4 separate regions of the Homo sapiens genome follow, and regions 2, 3 and 4 are each reported to be linked to region 1. Evidence: microRNA targets listed by miRTarBase, many of them from high-throughput screens and not tested one by one. Region 1 holds a microRNA gene; each other region holds the end of a gene's coding sequence.
Evidence for each region. The annotated mature microRNA hsa-miR-940 reads AAGGCAGGGCCCCCGCUCCCC and lies in region 1 at 1,573-1,593, opposite strand. An mRNA with a match to its seed (bases 2 to 7 or 8) in the 3' UTR can be bound and repressed. Matches are read on the target gene's strand: a 7mer-m8 pairs with bases 2 to 8, a 7mer-A1 pairs with bases 2 to 7 and ends in A, and an 8mer does both.

Region 1 (3,958 bases):
TCAGCCATGTAGGCAGGAGGAGGCAGTCCAGCACTCGGTCACCTGAGGTCTCAGGGAGGCAGGCTCCATCTGCTGCCCCGTCATCCTGGTTCACGCCTCCCTCCTCATGGTCACCTCTGTGTTCAAGGAAGTGCTTGGCCGGGCATGGTGGCTCACGCCTGTAATCCCAGCACTTTGGGAGGCCGAGGCAGGCGGATCATGAAGTCGAAAAATCAAGACCATCCTGGCTAACACGGTGAAACCCCGTCTCTACTAAAAATACAAAAAAATTAGCCGGGTGTGGTGGCGGGCACCTGTAGTCCCAGCTACTCAGGAGGCTGAGGCAAGAGAATGGCGTGAACCGGGGAGGCGGAGCTTGCAGTGAGCCGAGATCACGCCATTGCACTCCATCTGGACTACAGTGAGACTCCATCTAAAAAAAAAAAAAAAAAGGAAGTGCTCAAGTTCAGGCCGGGGTAGGGTGTGTGCAGTGGCCTCCGTCAAGTGTGTGTCACCCCCAGGCAGCTCCCTGCTGCGCCTGGACCCAACTGTGCCCTTGGCTCACTCCATCTTGCTGGGTTTCCCATCTCTGTCTTACTGGCTGCTTTCAGAGACCAGGCCCAGAGTCCCCAGGACTCAGGTGACCTTGGCTACCCTGGAATCCTGGACTAAAGATCTGCAATAGAAATGTGTCCAGCAGGGAATGTAATGTGTCCAGCAGGGAACCATCCTGTTTGCTTTGCTTTTCTGAGTTCCTACAACCAACCGGCCAGGGCGCACTGTGGGGCACAGGGATGCAGGCCCTGGAGTATGGCCACTTCTGCCTGGGGGCGTCTGGGGGGTTTCCTGAGTGAGGTGGGGTCTCACCAGCTCCAGGAGACACCACTGCCATGCACAAGGTAGGTGTGGGGGTGGAGGATCACCTCCGTGAGGACCCAGACCCCACCCACTGTGGCTGTGGTGGAGACTGCAGGTCTGTCTCAAGGCCCCAGGCCTGACACCTGCAAGAACAGAACCTGGGGGTGACGGAGAGGGGATTCCACCAGGCCAGCCCGGGGCTTGAACCCCAGCCAGGGCAGCTGCTGTCTGCTGCCCCACCAGGTAACGCACCGACCCAGCTGCTGTTCAGCTCCCCCTCTGGGCCAGCACCATGCTCATGGCATAGGCCGGCTGGGCCCTCTGAGACCCCCACTCCCACACAGACTGGTCTGCATGGAGGCTGGTGCAGCCTGTGCCGTACAGACCCTGCCCGGCTGCACTACTGGCCAGAGCCCCCTGCAGACAGGCGGCTCGAGGGGAGCTCCACCATGCAGGAGATGGCCCAGCACTGCAGTCACTTAGGCTGCTCATCCCTCCCCGAACTGACATGTCCCTCCCTCCAGATGCCCCCCACCGCCGAACCCCAGCATGCTGGGCATGCTCTGGCCATCCCACACAGGGATCAGGGTGGGAGGGCTGGAGGCTGCCTGTCAGGGGCAAGGCCTCCTCCAGGAGGTAGGACGGGGTGGTGCAGGTGGGGTCCCCTCACCTGATGGGCCCTCGAGGCCAGGCTGTAGGCAGGCAGGAGGGGGCTGAAGCAGTGGGGTCAGGCCCGGGGAGCGGGGGCCCTGCCTTCCTTCCTCAACACACGGGGCTGCCCAGGCCCCGCTCCTGGGGCCGGGCCCACACCTCACAGACACTGGTGTTGGATGCTTCGGCTTGAAGGAGCTCCAAATGGACTAGCCGCAGCTGCCCCTGGGTCCACCTGGCCCAGGCAATACCACAGAATCACCAAGGCTCATCTAGCCATGGGCCCAAACCCAAGGCCCTAAGAGGCACCCCGGGTGCCTCAGTCACAGTCCCAGGCAGCTCAGGTCCCAGGCGGCTCACAGTCACCATCCTTGACTTCATGGTAGCAGAAATGGAGTGCTTTGAGCTTGTGATGAGCACAGGCTCCCAACCCTGGGAGAGTTCAGACATGCCCACTGGAGAGGCCCCAGGCCCTGATGATACCCACTCCTCAGACATGCAAACCTGGAGCCAGGGAGGCCCCAATGAACTGCATACTCTCCCAACAGACCAAGCTCACCCCACACCAGCGCAAGGCCCTTTCAGACCCAGCCTGGCCACCCCCATGGACCTGGCCAGCACCTCCCCCAGCCCCACCCTCTCCAGACAGGCACCAGGCTGTGGTGACCCGCCTCTCAGCAGCTCCTCCTCTGATGCCTCCCCACGGTCCAGTCGTTACCCCCTCGTCCACCTGACTGGGCTGCGCATGGCCTCAGTGCAGAGCCAGGTTTTAGTAGTGGGTAAAAGGGCTCCCTTGCTGTGCTTTACCAGAGAATGCAACACCCCCAAAGCTCCTTCATGACCCACTGTGACCTGCAGCACCACCAAGCCCATCCTCATCCCTGTGTCCCAGGCCACCAGCCTCTGAGGGCAGGCACTGCAGGAGCCACCGGGCCACAGAGGATGGAGGCAGGGAGGACATTCTGCCTTCATGAGGGCATGCTCTCAAAGACAGAGCCGCCCCAAACTGTCAGCAGGTGACCCTCCGCTCTGGGAAGGCAAGGGGAGGAGCTCAGGGCCGTGGCCAGAGCCCACGAGAAGCCCGTGCCCAGCTCAGCAGGTGACCCTCCGCTCTGGGAAGGTAAGGGGAGGAGCTCAGGGCCGTGGCCAGAGCCCACGAGAAGCCCATGCCCAGCACTGCAGGGCTCTGGCCACTGCCTAATGCCCTCCATGAAGCCCTGCCTGCCCTTCCAGCAAACCAGGGCCCCTGAGGCTCCAGAAACCCCAGCTCCACTGCCCTCAGCCTCCATGGCCTTAGCAGCCTGGCTCTGGGGCTGAGCTCCTGGAAGGGCAGGGTGGGGGTAGGCTCCTGAGTTTTATTTTCTCACATTTCTTCCAGACATGCTTCTGCTGATCCTCAAAATGGCAAAAGCCAGGATGCTCAATTCTCAAAGCTCAACAGCTGATGGCACATTTGATAACAAAAATCAGTAATATTTAGAAACAAATTTGATTAAATTCGTAAGTGCCTGAATAAATCATACTTGTAGATTTAATATAAAATGTGTGAAAGCTTATTCGCAGGCCAAATGACATTACTGCAGAGCATTAAAAACCAGCAGGGGGAGGGCTGTCGGCCCAGCTGGTGCTGCGTCACGCCCACCCATGTCATGTGGGGTCACCAGGCTGCCCCTGCCCACCAGGTGTCAGTGGGGCCCTGGGCATGGGCTCTAGGTTTGGGGCCTTTTAGCACCTCTGACCACTGGACTCCAATGCCACCTCAGAGAATTCCGCCTATGCCTGCCTGGACCACCGAGGCTGCCCCCTCCCCTAGCGCCGACTCTGGGGCCCCTTCAGCAGGGGGGCGGCCCCTCTGTTCCACTTAATCTTCCATGCCTGGGCACAGCAGGTGTGACAGTAATGCAGAGACTCTAACTCACTTTACATGTCATCAAACCCAAATCCAACGGGTACCCAAACCAGACTGATGGGCCTGCCAGCCTCCACCCACAGGAACACACTGGTGACTTACTGCAGCAGACTCGGGAGGTAGCTCCTCCTCCTAGCTGCCTTTGTCCCCAACTCCTTGGACATCCCTTAGCCCAGGGTGAAGGGTCAAGGGCACACTTGACACCCTCGGACAGGGCCAGAGGGAGTGGGTCTCGGCAGGAAGTCACCAAGAGCTGGCTTCCCACACAGGGAAGAGGGCAGTGATGGCAGACCACATCCCCACTATCTATCCATCCATTCACCCACCCACCCACTCCGGGTCACCAAGCTGCACCCTGTCCTTTGCTCTGACATCTAAAGTCTCCAAGTCATGCTGGTTCTCTCCTCCCAAAGATCGGCTTGGATCTGTTCCCTTCTCCCTTCCTTGCTGCCACGAAGCTGTTCAGACAAAGTCTGAAGCTCAGCGCACCGTCAATCCCTCCACAAATAACCACAGGGCAACGACTGCCTGACAGGCACAGCAGAGAACAAAACCCGCCCT
Region 2 (3,958 bases), not on the chromosome of region 1:
CTTTGGGAGGCCGAGGCGAGTGGATCACTTGAGGCCAGGAGTTCGAGACCAGCCTACAAAAATTAGCAAGGTGTGGTGGTGCACGCCTATAGTCCCAGCTACTCTACTCGGGAGGGTGAGGCCCAAGAATCACTTGAGCCTGGGAGGCAGAGGCTGCAGTGAGCCAAGATGGCATCACTGCATTCCAGCCTGGGCAACAGAGCCAGACCCTGTCTTAAAAAAAAAAAGAATTGGCCGGGCACGGTGGCTCACGCCTGTAATCCCAGCACTTTGGGAGGCCAAGGTGGGCTGATCACAAGGTCAGGAGATTCAGACCATCCTGGCAAACACAGTGAAACCCCGTCTCTACTAAAAAATGCAAAAAATTAGCTGGGTGTGGTGGCGGGCACCTGTGGTCCCAGCTACTTGGGAGGCTGAGGCAGGAGAATAGTGTGAACCTGGGAGGCAGAGCTTGCAGTGAGTGGAGATAGTGCCACTGCACTCCAGCCTGGGTGACAGAGCCAGACTCCGTCTCAAAAAAAAAAAAAAAAAGATTCATGAATAACATGTAGTATAATGTTTGGGGATCAGGTGATACCTAATTTATTCATACTGATGGACAGATCAGTATGAATATTAGGGTTGAATAACTTGATAAAATAGTACAATACTCCTTTCTCTGAATATATTCTGTGATTTATTGACTAACTTGTACATGTTTAATTTCTGTGCATGCAGCTTAATGATAAAGAAGAAGCTTTGGCTCATCAAAGAAAAGTTAGCTACATGCTTGCTCGGGCATTGGAAGACAAAGACACTGCTTCAAACGAGAATAAAGAAAAAAATCCTATAAAAGAGAATTTCCCTTTCAACAACCCCTGGCGTAAGACTTCAGAATTCTCTGTTTTGGGTGATCCTATACATTCAAGTGTCTGCATTTTAAATTCTGTGGGCTGCATTTGTTCAATCCAGCACTCTCAAATAGATCCAAACTATAGAACTCTTAAAAGATCCCATTCTTTGCCATCAAGTATCATATTTTAAAGACAAGCCAGTTGAAATTGGAACTGAGAGTTGTTTATATCGAGATACTTTGAAAAATGATTTTGTAAATTTTGCTGCATCTTGAGAAGTTGTATGTTTCCTAGGTATTTCTAAATTTTAGGAGGTCACTTAAATCAAATATTTTCTACATTTTCTTTTTCTTCTTTTGAGATGGAGTCTTGCTCTGTCACCCAGGTTGGAGTGCAGTGGTGTGATCTCGGTTCACTGCAACCTCCGCCTCCCGGTTCAAGCAATTCTCCTGCCTCAGCCTCCCGAGTAACTCGGATTACAGGCATGTGCCACCACGCCCAGCTAATTTTTGTATTTTTAGTAGAGACGGGGTTTTACCATGTTAGCCAGGCTGATCTTGAACTCCTGACCTCAAGTGATCCGCCTGCCTTGGCCTCCGAAAGTGCTGGGATTACAGGCGTGAGCCACCACACCCAGCCTATTTTCTACATTTTCTACAAGAAATTAGTATTCTGTGTTGACATTTTATTTATAAATTACATTACTGTATTTATAAATTACATTACAGGCTGGGCATGGTGGCTCATGCTTATAAATCCCAGCACTTTGGGAGGCCAAGGTGGGTGGGTCACCTGAGGCTGGAGTTCAAGACCAGTCTGACCAACATGGAGAAACCCCATCTCTACTAAAAATACAAAAAATTAGCTAGGCCTAGTGGCGCATGCCTGTAATCCCAGCTACTTGGGAGGCTGAGGTAGGAGAATCGCTTGAACCTGGGAGGCGGGGGTTGTGGTAAGCCGAGACTGTGTCATTGCACTCCAGCCTGGGCGACAAGAGCGAAACTCTGTCTCAAAAAAAAAAAAAAACACATTACAGTGTTTGCCAACATCCTAAAACAAAAAATAATGATTTTTGGGAAAAACAAAAAATTATTTAACTATTTTGATTGACTATAGGGATCTTAGCTTGGCTAAATCAACAATATAGCAATGTATCTTAATGCTCTAAAAAGTAACAATACCTAGGACTGACTGAATGTTAATTTCTGGAATTCATTTATCTTGTTTTATTTGCCTTGTTCAGTATTTTTCATTTACCATATGAAGTTTAGAAATAACAATTTCCTTAAGTTAACTTCAATAAGACAGTTTTGATGGTGGGACCTTGGCAGAAGTATATTGAGTCAGTGCCGGCTGCGTTCATGGCTTCTTGTCAGGGTAGTAACATTTTGCAACCAAATCTGCACAGATTTGTAGCCAAGTCTACAAAGTGCTTAACAGCTCTTTTCATTGCATCCTGTGAGATGGTTGTGATGATCCAGGAAATGGGGTCTCAGGAATCTGAAGAAGCTGCCTGAGCCAAGGTGATTTCTAGGAGTTTTTTTGTTTGTGGTATGTGAATTGGGGTGTGTGGGGGTGGGGTGTGTGTGTAGACAGGGTCCCACTGTGTTGCTCAGGCTGGTGCCAAACTCCTGGCCTCAAGGGATCCTCCTGCCTCAGCCTCTCAAAGTGCTGGGATTACAGGCATAAACCACAACTCAATAAAAAAGTTTTTAAAAATTTACAAAGCTCATATTTGATCCAGCTAGGATTTTACCCTGTACATTTGTATTTCTTGTAGGCTGGCGCACAGATATCTTAAATGGCTACTAATTGCTGCTGTGTATGAAAACAAATGGCTATCAAGGCCGGGTGCAGTGGCTTACAGATCTGGTCTGAATCTCAAGTCCAGACCAGTCCAGAGTTCAAGACCAGCCTGGGCAACATGGTGAAACCCCATCTATACAAAAACTCGGCAAGGCATGGTGGCATGCACCTGTTGTCCCAGCTACTCAGGGGCTGAGGCAGGAGGATGGCATGAGCCCAGGAGCTTGAGGCTGCAGTGAGCTGTGATTGTGCCACTGCACTCCAGCCTGAGTGACAGAGTGAGACCCCCATCTCCAAAAGAAAAGGCTATCAATACAAAAGTTTATCTAAATTACTGTACAGCTATACAATGGAATACTCTACAAAATGGAGAGATCCATAAGATAAAGCAAATGAATAAAGCAAAATGCATGTGTTGACAGCTGTTGTGATACCTCAGTTCTTGTCTTCTTGGTTTAAAAGAATTTAAATGAGACAGCAAAGGAGATGCAGCATAATTTATTGCAAAAGAAAAGGAGTATTTTGAAAGTTAGGTGCAGAACAGACAGTACACCTGAGAGAGAGAATTCAGGGCCGGCTGCTCGTAAGGGTGAGACAGCATTGATTATTGCTGGAGAAACTCCCTTTATGGGAGTTTTGCATTATTATTCATAAGGAGGTGAGGTGTTGCAGTAATCATGTCCTGGGTGGTCCTCTGCACAGGTGCAGTAGCTGTTAATGCTTGTTCATACACCACATGTCTCAGTAGCATCTTAAATTTCCACCTAGAGGTGTGTTTTTTATTATTATCATGTGCAAAGGATCAGTTTGAGGACAGGTAAAATCAAAATGTGTATGCTCTCTAGAAGGGAAAGTCCCTACTGAAGATAGCTTTGCTTAAATGAGCTCAATTACAATGTGAATGCTGAGGTTTATTGTGTTGGCTGTATGGTCATGAGAAAATGGTCATTTCCTTGACTACCTGATACGGTTTGGCTGTGTCCCCACCCAAGTCTTATTTTGAATTGTAATCCCCATAATTCCCACATGTTGAAGGAGGGACTTGGTGGTAGGTGACTGGATCATGGGGGTGGTATCCCCCATGCTGTTCTCATGATTGTGAGTTCTCACGAGATCCAATGGTTTTATACATGGTAGTCTCTCCTGCTGCCATGTAAAACATGCCTGCTTCCCCTTCTGCCAGGATTGTAAGTTTCCTGAGGCCTGCCCAGCCATGTGGAGCTATGAGTCAATTAAACCTCTTTCCTTTATAAATTACTGAGTCTTGGGTAGTATTCTTTATAGCAGTTTGAGAACGGAATAATACACTCCTATCCTGC
Region 3 (3,958 bases), not on the chromosome of region 1:
GCCCCCCTGGCTTGTTTGTGGCTGTTTTCCTCTGTCCCTTCCCTGGCATCTGGTGCCAGAGGGCAGGTGCGGGGGTCCTGGGGCGGGTGGAATTTGTACAGCACTTTCATGGGGAGATGGTCACAAGAAAGGAAACCAGGACAAGATAAGGACTAAGTCTAGGGCACCCACAAAGATGGCAGACGAAGCCCATGAAAGGGCCTGCGACAGAGTGAAGAGACGGATGGGCCTGCGTTGGCCTCAGCTAGCTCTGGAGGCTCTGTGGGGGAGGGGCAGGTGGGCCTTGCAGTCAGGATTCGGTAATTACACTTTGCTCACGGGTAGCACCTTCGGAGTCCTCCTGCCTTGACCCCCAGGTCAGGTGATGGTGGCCTCACAACCTCCCCTATGAGGTAGGTGAAGTATTATTACCATCATTTTACAGATGGGGAAACCGAGGCCCAGGGAGTGCGGGTGACTTGCCCAAAGTCCTGGGATGGTGGCAAGGCTCCGGTGCCCTCCCCCCACCCTCAAGTTCCCCCATTCTCTGCTCTCCTATTGCCCTAGACCGCCCCCGCCCCATCCCATACCACCCTTACCTCCCGTGCTAGCCTACCCGGCCCTCGGCCCACCGCTTGCCGCCCCAACATAGCATCCCAGAGCTCCACCTGCACGTGGTGGTGGTGGGGCGCTGGGGAAGCCCAAGCCTGGTCGCTAATGTGCCTGGGTGGGGTCTGGTTGGGAAGAGACCCCTGCCAGGAGATGCTCTCTGCATAGGATTGGCTAAGAGCTCTGTGGGCGGGGCTCGGGAAAAATGGGGAGCCGTTGCCCCGCCCACTCGATACAAGTTGGTTGGATCCCCAGGGCGAAGGCGCCTGGAAGGTGGGGGCTGGCTCACTGGGCGGTCTTCCGCGGGGCAGGCGGGTGGTGGGGGGACAGGAAACCGAGGCGGATCCAAGAGAGGAGTGGAGAAGGGCAGATCCCCTCCTCCGCTCAAGACTTCCCACCACACTCTCTCCCACGTCCACGAGGCCTCGGGGTCGCTGCCCTCCCGTCCCGGCTGGGGGCCGCTCCCCAGCCCGCCAAAGAGGAGGATGCAGTTGGGGCCGACCCCATTTTAAGCAAAGCTACAATATAGAAACATTTGGATTTACAAGGAACGTGGGTGACTATTTGCTTTACATTAGCATTCTTCACTCTACAAAACGATTCACCTACTATGTATGATGTTCCTCCAGATCCCAGGGAGAGGAAATGGTGGGGGTGTGCGATTTAATTTCAGAAAATTTCGGTATGGGCAAAAGGCGACCCGTCTACTGCAGCAAGCAGAATGCTCAGCTCAAGGGGAAGCCGTTCGAAGGAAAATGGTTCCCAAATGCCAATGGTCTCCCCACGCCCTGGATGTGGGGACCCTATCCAGAGTCCCCTTCTTCTCTTTGGGGTGTCACAGGCCCATCCAGAGTGGAACTGGGGGCTAAGACCACGGCCACAGACTGTGGGGGCCTGGCGCCACCTGGCGGTAGTTCTGGGAATGTCAGGCCCAGGCTCGTGGACCCCCAGGATTGGAGGCTTTGTCACCAGCTGGGTCTTGTATCAATACCAGGACCAGCGTGGGGATGAGAGGGCTTAAGCAGGGATCAGCCTGAAATCTGCCGTCTCCAAGGGGAAGCCAGTTTTAGTCTCATCAGTGGCCGAGGCAGAGAAACCACAGCTTCTTTGTGTGTGGCAACCTCAGAACTCACAGAATCCTGGTCTTTTCCCTGCCTCCTTTCCCTGCACTGTGAGTGAGTCGGGCAGAAGGAGCTGCTCCCGGGGACCAGGGAGTGGGGAAGGGTGAGAAGACAGTCCTGGAGAAGGTCAGGTGATGGACGATCAGAGACCACGCACGATGAGACGGAATGAATGGAAGGTCTACAAGCATTGGGGGATGGAGGGGTGGAGGAAAGAAGGGTGGAGGTCTGCACAGGCAGGGAGAGATGAGGAAGGGCAGGCAAGCTGGAAAGCATGGAGAATAGGGCAGATGTGGCTGCGTATGAGGTGTGGGAAGCTGGCGGGGGGTCTTTTGATGAAGGAGTTAGGGCAAAGCTAGTCGGGGCTCGGGACCCCCTGAGAAGGAAGGGAGATGAGTCCTGGTGGAATGCTATGCACACAGTAGGTGCCTAAAAGGTGTGAGTCAGTGTTCAAGAGATGAAATTGCTGAGGAGGGAACTACTTCAGATTCTGAGCAGAGGGGGGCACCAAGGGGAGAAGGGGAGGAGACGGGGGGATGGCAGGAGGCAGCCCAGTTCTCAGCCCAGCTCCAGCAACTGCAGCTCTTCTGTTTCTGACCTCTGCCTCACCCGACCCCACTCAGCCCTATGGGCCTCTCCTCTCACACCCCCGGCCTCCAACCCTGCCTGGCCTTCACAAAACCTGCCTTCTCTGTATAGTCCTCCGCATTTCCAGGCCTCTGTCCCCACGCACACACACAATGGACACAACACGAGTACAAAGGGCCACAGCTCCAGGACCCAGGAGCGGGCTATATACTATCCTCGACATTCAGGGCCCAGCCGGCACCTGAAACTGCCCTGGGGATGGGCCTCTCCTGGCCAGGCCGGGGCCAAACGCCTCAGCCTCCCCTCCCCGGGTCCACATCGGGGGCTGGAGAGGGAGTGGCCTCTCTCCACTCCAGGTGCTGCCTTAAAGAAAATGGGGGACCATGCCCACCTGGCGGGCCTCTGGAGGGGTCTGCCTGTCTGGCCGTCTGGCTCTCGAGCTCCCCCAACTTCTTTAGTATTAGTAAGTCAGGAAGAAAAGGGGCAAAGCAGGAAAATGCCTCCCAGAGCCCCTTCCCCGGAGCTGGACTGTGGGGGATGGGGCTGGTACTTCCTAGAAACGGGGCCCAGTTGAGTCCTGGGACCCCTCCCTGGCTGAGCCCTCAGGGTCCTCCCCTCCCTATGGCAGGGGGCTCAGGCCGGGCGTTGTGCATAAAGTGGTGAGGGCATGATGGGGACCTGGGCCCTCGGCCCCCTGGGCCTCCCTTGGCCCCACTCAGGCCTTCAGCTGGTGCCACTGGGCCACGGGCTGCCGGGGACGGGCAATCATGTCCTTCCAGTGCTTCACCTCCCCTGGCCCGCTCTTCCAGGACAGGTAGATCTGGGGAGAAAGGGGAGACGATGGCATCGGCACAGGCTCCAGGGCACTGGCCCTTTCCCCCACAGGGGTGACACCCCAACTCCACCATGATACCCTAGCCTGTGGCCCCCCAGCCTCCACATGCTGTGACAACCTACCCCACAGAGGCGCTCTCCTCCCTCCCCCAGTCAGCCTGATCTATTTTCCTGGTTGTCTACCCCCACACCCCCAAGCCTGGGCACGCCAGGCCTCTCGGAATTAGACTGCCAACCTATTTTGCAGTGGGGTCTGGAAGGTGGGGTTGGAGGCAGCTTGTCTCCATGGCCTTCCCTGCCCTATCTGTTGGGTGATGTCCAGCCCCCCTGAATTATAATCATTCCCAACTCCTGGGCACTTGCTACATGTGAGTACTGAGCTAGGGACTTCATACACATAGATCATCAAATCCTACAACTGTGAGGTAGGATTATATGATTATCTCCATTTTTCAGATGGGGAAACTAAGGTACGAAGAGTTAAGAGACTTACCCACAGTCACAGGGTTTATAAGTGGTGCAGAGGGATTGAAATCCAGGTCTTTGGAGCTCTATGCTACCGGCCTAATCCTGCTTCGCAGCCTCACCCGGCTGCATGCATGAATCCCTCCGGAACCCCCAGGATTGGCCCAGCTGACCTCAGCTTTGGGACTTGGGGGTGATTAAGAGTATGAGCATTGGAGAAAAAACAGGTACATGGGGCCTTCTATAGGACACCCGGCCAGTATTCCTTAAGACCGTTAAGATCATAGAGAATGGGAAAGACTGAGAAACTGTCAAGGGCCAGAGGGGACAGGGGAGACATGCCTATTAAATGCAATGTGGTG
Region 4 (3,000 bases), not on the chromosome of region 1:
TGTCCAAGGATTGGGATAGTGTGAAGCCAGGACGGGGTAGAAGTGTCCATGGGCTGTATGTGTGCAGGGGCTGGACACATGAGGTTGGGCACTGAATGTCCAGCTCAGGGCTGGGGTCAGGGGCCAAAACCTGCTCAGATCAGAATGGGGCCTGAGGACACTTCTCAATTCATTATCTCCACCTGGCCCAGGAACTGCATCGGGAAACAATTTGCCATGAACGAGCTGAAGGTGGCCACGGCCCTGACCCTGCTCCGCTTTGAGCTGCTGCCTGATCCCACCAGGATCCCCATCCCCATTGCACGACTTGTGTTGAAATCCAAAAATGGAATCCACCTGCGTCTCAGGAGGCTCCCTAACCCTTGTGAAGACAAGGACCAGCTTTGAGGGCCTCCACCTGCCGTCCTGTCTTCCTGACCCCCGCTTCTGTCCCCTTCCTGTCTGCCCATATCCTGTTTTCTGTCTGCCCACCTTCCCTTCTTCCCACCTGCCTGCTGTCCCCCAGTCTGCCTGCCCTTCTCTCTCTCACCTTTCTCCAGGCTCCCTACCTGCTTGTCTACCTGTCTCCTACCCACCTGTATCTCTTGTTGGGAGAAAAGCTGAGTGTTGGGAGAAGCTGAGGCCGAGCTTGCATGTCTGACATAATGTAAAAGAGTCTTGGATCATGTCCAGGATCCAGGGTCTAAAACCCCTTGTGGCCTTTGGAACACCAAGCTCTGTGCTGAAGGGTGGAAGGCTACCCTGACGCACCATAATCTAAGCCCGGGGCATAAAACCCCTCGTGGCTTGGATAGAATCCAGGGCTCGTGGCTCTGGAATGTGTCTGAACTTGCTGCCTCCTCGCTCCTTGCTCTCCCAGGATCAATTGTATCTTGAGTTAAAAGAACCTGCTCTCCATTATCTCAAGTAGCAGAGCAGATGCTAAACCGTCACAGCTGTAAATCATGTGCTTAATGCAACATGCCCTTTCGACCCCCACATTCTCACCACCTGTTTCTTTGTTTGATCACCAATAAATAATCTGCACTTCCAGAGCTCGGGGCCTTCACAGCCTCCATCCTTAGCTTTGGCGCCCTGGACCCACTTTCTCTCTCAAACTGTCTTTTCTCACTGCTTTGACTCTGCCGGACTTTGTCACCCCCACGACCTGGTGTTGGGTCTGAACACCCCAACATCCCTGAATCTCCACCCACCTCCCAAACTCCTGCCTGCCCTCCAGACTGTCTGCCCATACACCTGTCTCCTTCTTCCTGCCTGCTTGTCTGTTCCTATATTAGTTTCCTATTACTGCTGTAATAAACTATCACAATCTCAGTGATTTTAAATAACGACTTTTATTCTCTTACAGTTATGGAGGTCAAAGTCAGATATATGGGTTTCACTGAATTAAAACAAGTTCTGGAGAGGGCCAGACCCCCACCCCCAGAAGGTTTCAGGGAGAGCCCTGCCCCTTGGCTTTTCAGCTCCAGAGCTGCCTTTTTTGCATTCCTTGGTACGGTCCCCTCCTTCCTCTTTAAAGCCAATGGCATCTTCAAATCTCTCTCTCTGTGACTGTCTTCACATCTCTTTCCCTCTTATAAGGACCCTTGTGGTTAGTTACATCAAGCTTATTAAGATAATCAAGGATAATGTCACCACCTCAAGATCCGTTACTTACTCAAAAGTCCATTGTGACATATGCAGTCCCACAATCACAGGTTTCATGAATTAGGATGTGGACAACATGGAGACCCATTGTTCATCCTAGCACAGCCCCTACCGGATTGTCATCCAATGTGTCCATCTAAATCTCTCCTGTATGCTACCTACCTACATACGTGATTGTCAGCCAGACAATCCCTCTATCTTCCCTCTTCTCTAGAATAAGGTTCACAAGCTTGCATGCTTTGTCCAGCTTCACATGGAAGGTGATAGGGTTAGAAGAGGAGACACTAAGGCAGGGAGATAAATCCCTACTGAAGAGGGAAAATGGAGATGAGGTGTGCCCAATTGTGCCAGAACCCTAGCAGGGCCTGGTTTGATCCATCCCCCTGCACACAGCCTCATACCATGTCTCCCCTGGTGCCCACACCCTCTCCAGCTCCTGAGGCTCCCATGGTAGCTGAGTTTAGACAAACGATATTTATCTAGGAGATCAGAGGGAGAAGCTCACACCTGTAGGGAAAAGACTCCAGGCCTCCATTCCATTCAAGATTTAGATTCAAGATGAATCACAGCAAGGCTGAGCTAAGGGCCTGCCTTGCTGTGTTTTGTGTTACTGTAACTGAATACCCAAGGCTGGGTAATTGATCTAGAAAAGAAGTTTATTTTGCTCATGATCTGGTGGCTGAAAAGTTTAAGTTTTGGCAGCTAAATCAGATGAAGGCCTCATGCAGCTTCCACACATGGCAGAAAGCAAAAGGGGAGTGGCATATGCTGAGATTGCATGGTGACAGAGGAAGCAGGAGAGAGACCAAGGAAGCAAGACTCTGTTTTGATCCCGATGTCTTGGAAACCTGTCCATTCCAGATACAGCTAAAACTCAAGCCTGTGAGGTGGAAGGGGGCACTAATCTCTTCATAAAGGATCTGTCTCCACGATCTAAATATCTCCCACTAGGACCCACCTCCCAACACTACTGTGTTGGGGATCAAGGCTTCAGGAGTTTGGTTGGGAACATCCCACATCCCAGCTATAGTGAGGCTGCACTGAGCTGAGCAAGAAAGCCTCAAAGGCCTGGTCTGTCATGAGGATCTTGTAAATTCAGCTATCCACAGCCCCAGTGAGGTGTAGAAAGAGACCCCAGCCTAGCAACGTCACCAGGTACCTGTCAACCTTCCTCACATACGGAACCTGCAGGCTTCTCTGGAAGCTCATGGAGTGGGCAGCTGTCCAGTCAGGGGTGGGAGGAGCCCAGGTAGGCAAATGGGTCTGGCTGGTGGAAGAGGCTGTCAGACCCCAAGCAGCTCCTTCCCAACAGCACAACTTCTTGGTTGTCGTCTGCCTCTCTGGCTGGCCACC

Region 2: the mRNA of CCDC125 is a reported target of hsa-miR-940. Seed matches in the 3' UTR shown: 7mer-m8 at 1,282-1,288, 7mer-m8 at 1,417-1,423 and 7mer-m8 at 2,483-2,489.
Region 3: miRTarBase lists SYT7 as a target of hsa-miR-940. Seed matches in the 3' UTR shown: 7mer-m8 at 1,944-1,950.
Region 4: the mRNA of CYP4A11 is a reported target of hsa-miR-940. Seed matches in the 3' UTR shown: 7mer-m8 at 487-493, 7mer-m8 at 1,204-1,210 and 7mer-m8 at 1,250-1,256.

Annotation. Positions count from the first base shown.
Region 1 is chr16:2,269,441-2,273,398 of GRCh38, reverse strand. It overlaps MIR940 (microRNA 940), which reads right to left and starts at 1,652; the gene lies at 1,559-1,652. It overlaps MIR3677HG (MIR3677 and MIR940 host gene), which reads right to left. Exons shown (of 3, transcript NR_132988.1): 2 at 1,508-1,723; 3 at 327-412. MIR3677 (microRNA 3677) reads right to left here and starts at 2,686; the gene lies at 2,627-2,686.
Region 2 is chr5:69,279,794-69,283,751 of GRCh38, reverse strand. CCDC125 (coiled-coil domain containing 125) reads left to right here. Exons shown (of 12, transcript NM_176816.5): 12 at 718-3,577. The coding sequence ends at 1,023. Among named protein-coding and RNA genes, the nearest start is that of CDK7, 47 kb to the right of the region's middle.
Region 3 is chr11:61,515,615-61,519,572 of GRCh38, forward strand. SYT7 (synaptotagmin 7) reads right to left here. Exons shown (of 13, transcript NM_001365809.2): 13 at 1-3,117. The coding sequence ends at 3,013. Among named protein-coding and RNA genes, the nearest start is that of LRRC10B, 8.8 kb to the left of the region's middle.
Region 4 is chr1:46,927,502-46,930,501 of GRCh38, reverse strand. It overlaps CYP4A11 (cytochrome P450 family 4 subfamily A member 11), which reads left to right. Exons shown (of 12, transcript NM_000778.4): 12 at 192-1,314. The coding sequence ends at 387. Among named protein-coding and RNA genes, the nearest start is that of CYP4A11, 12 kb to the left of the region's middle.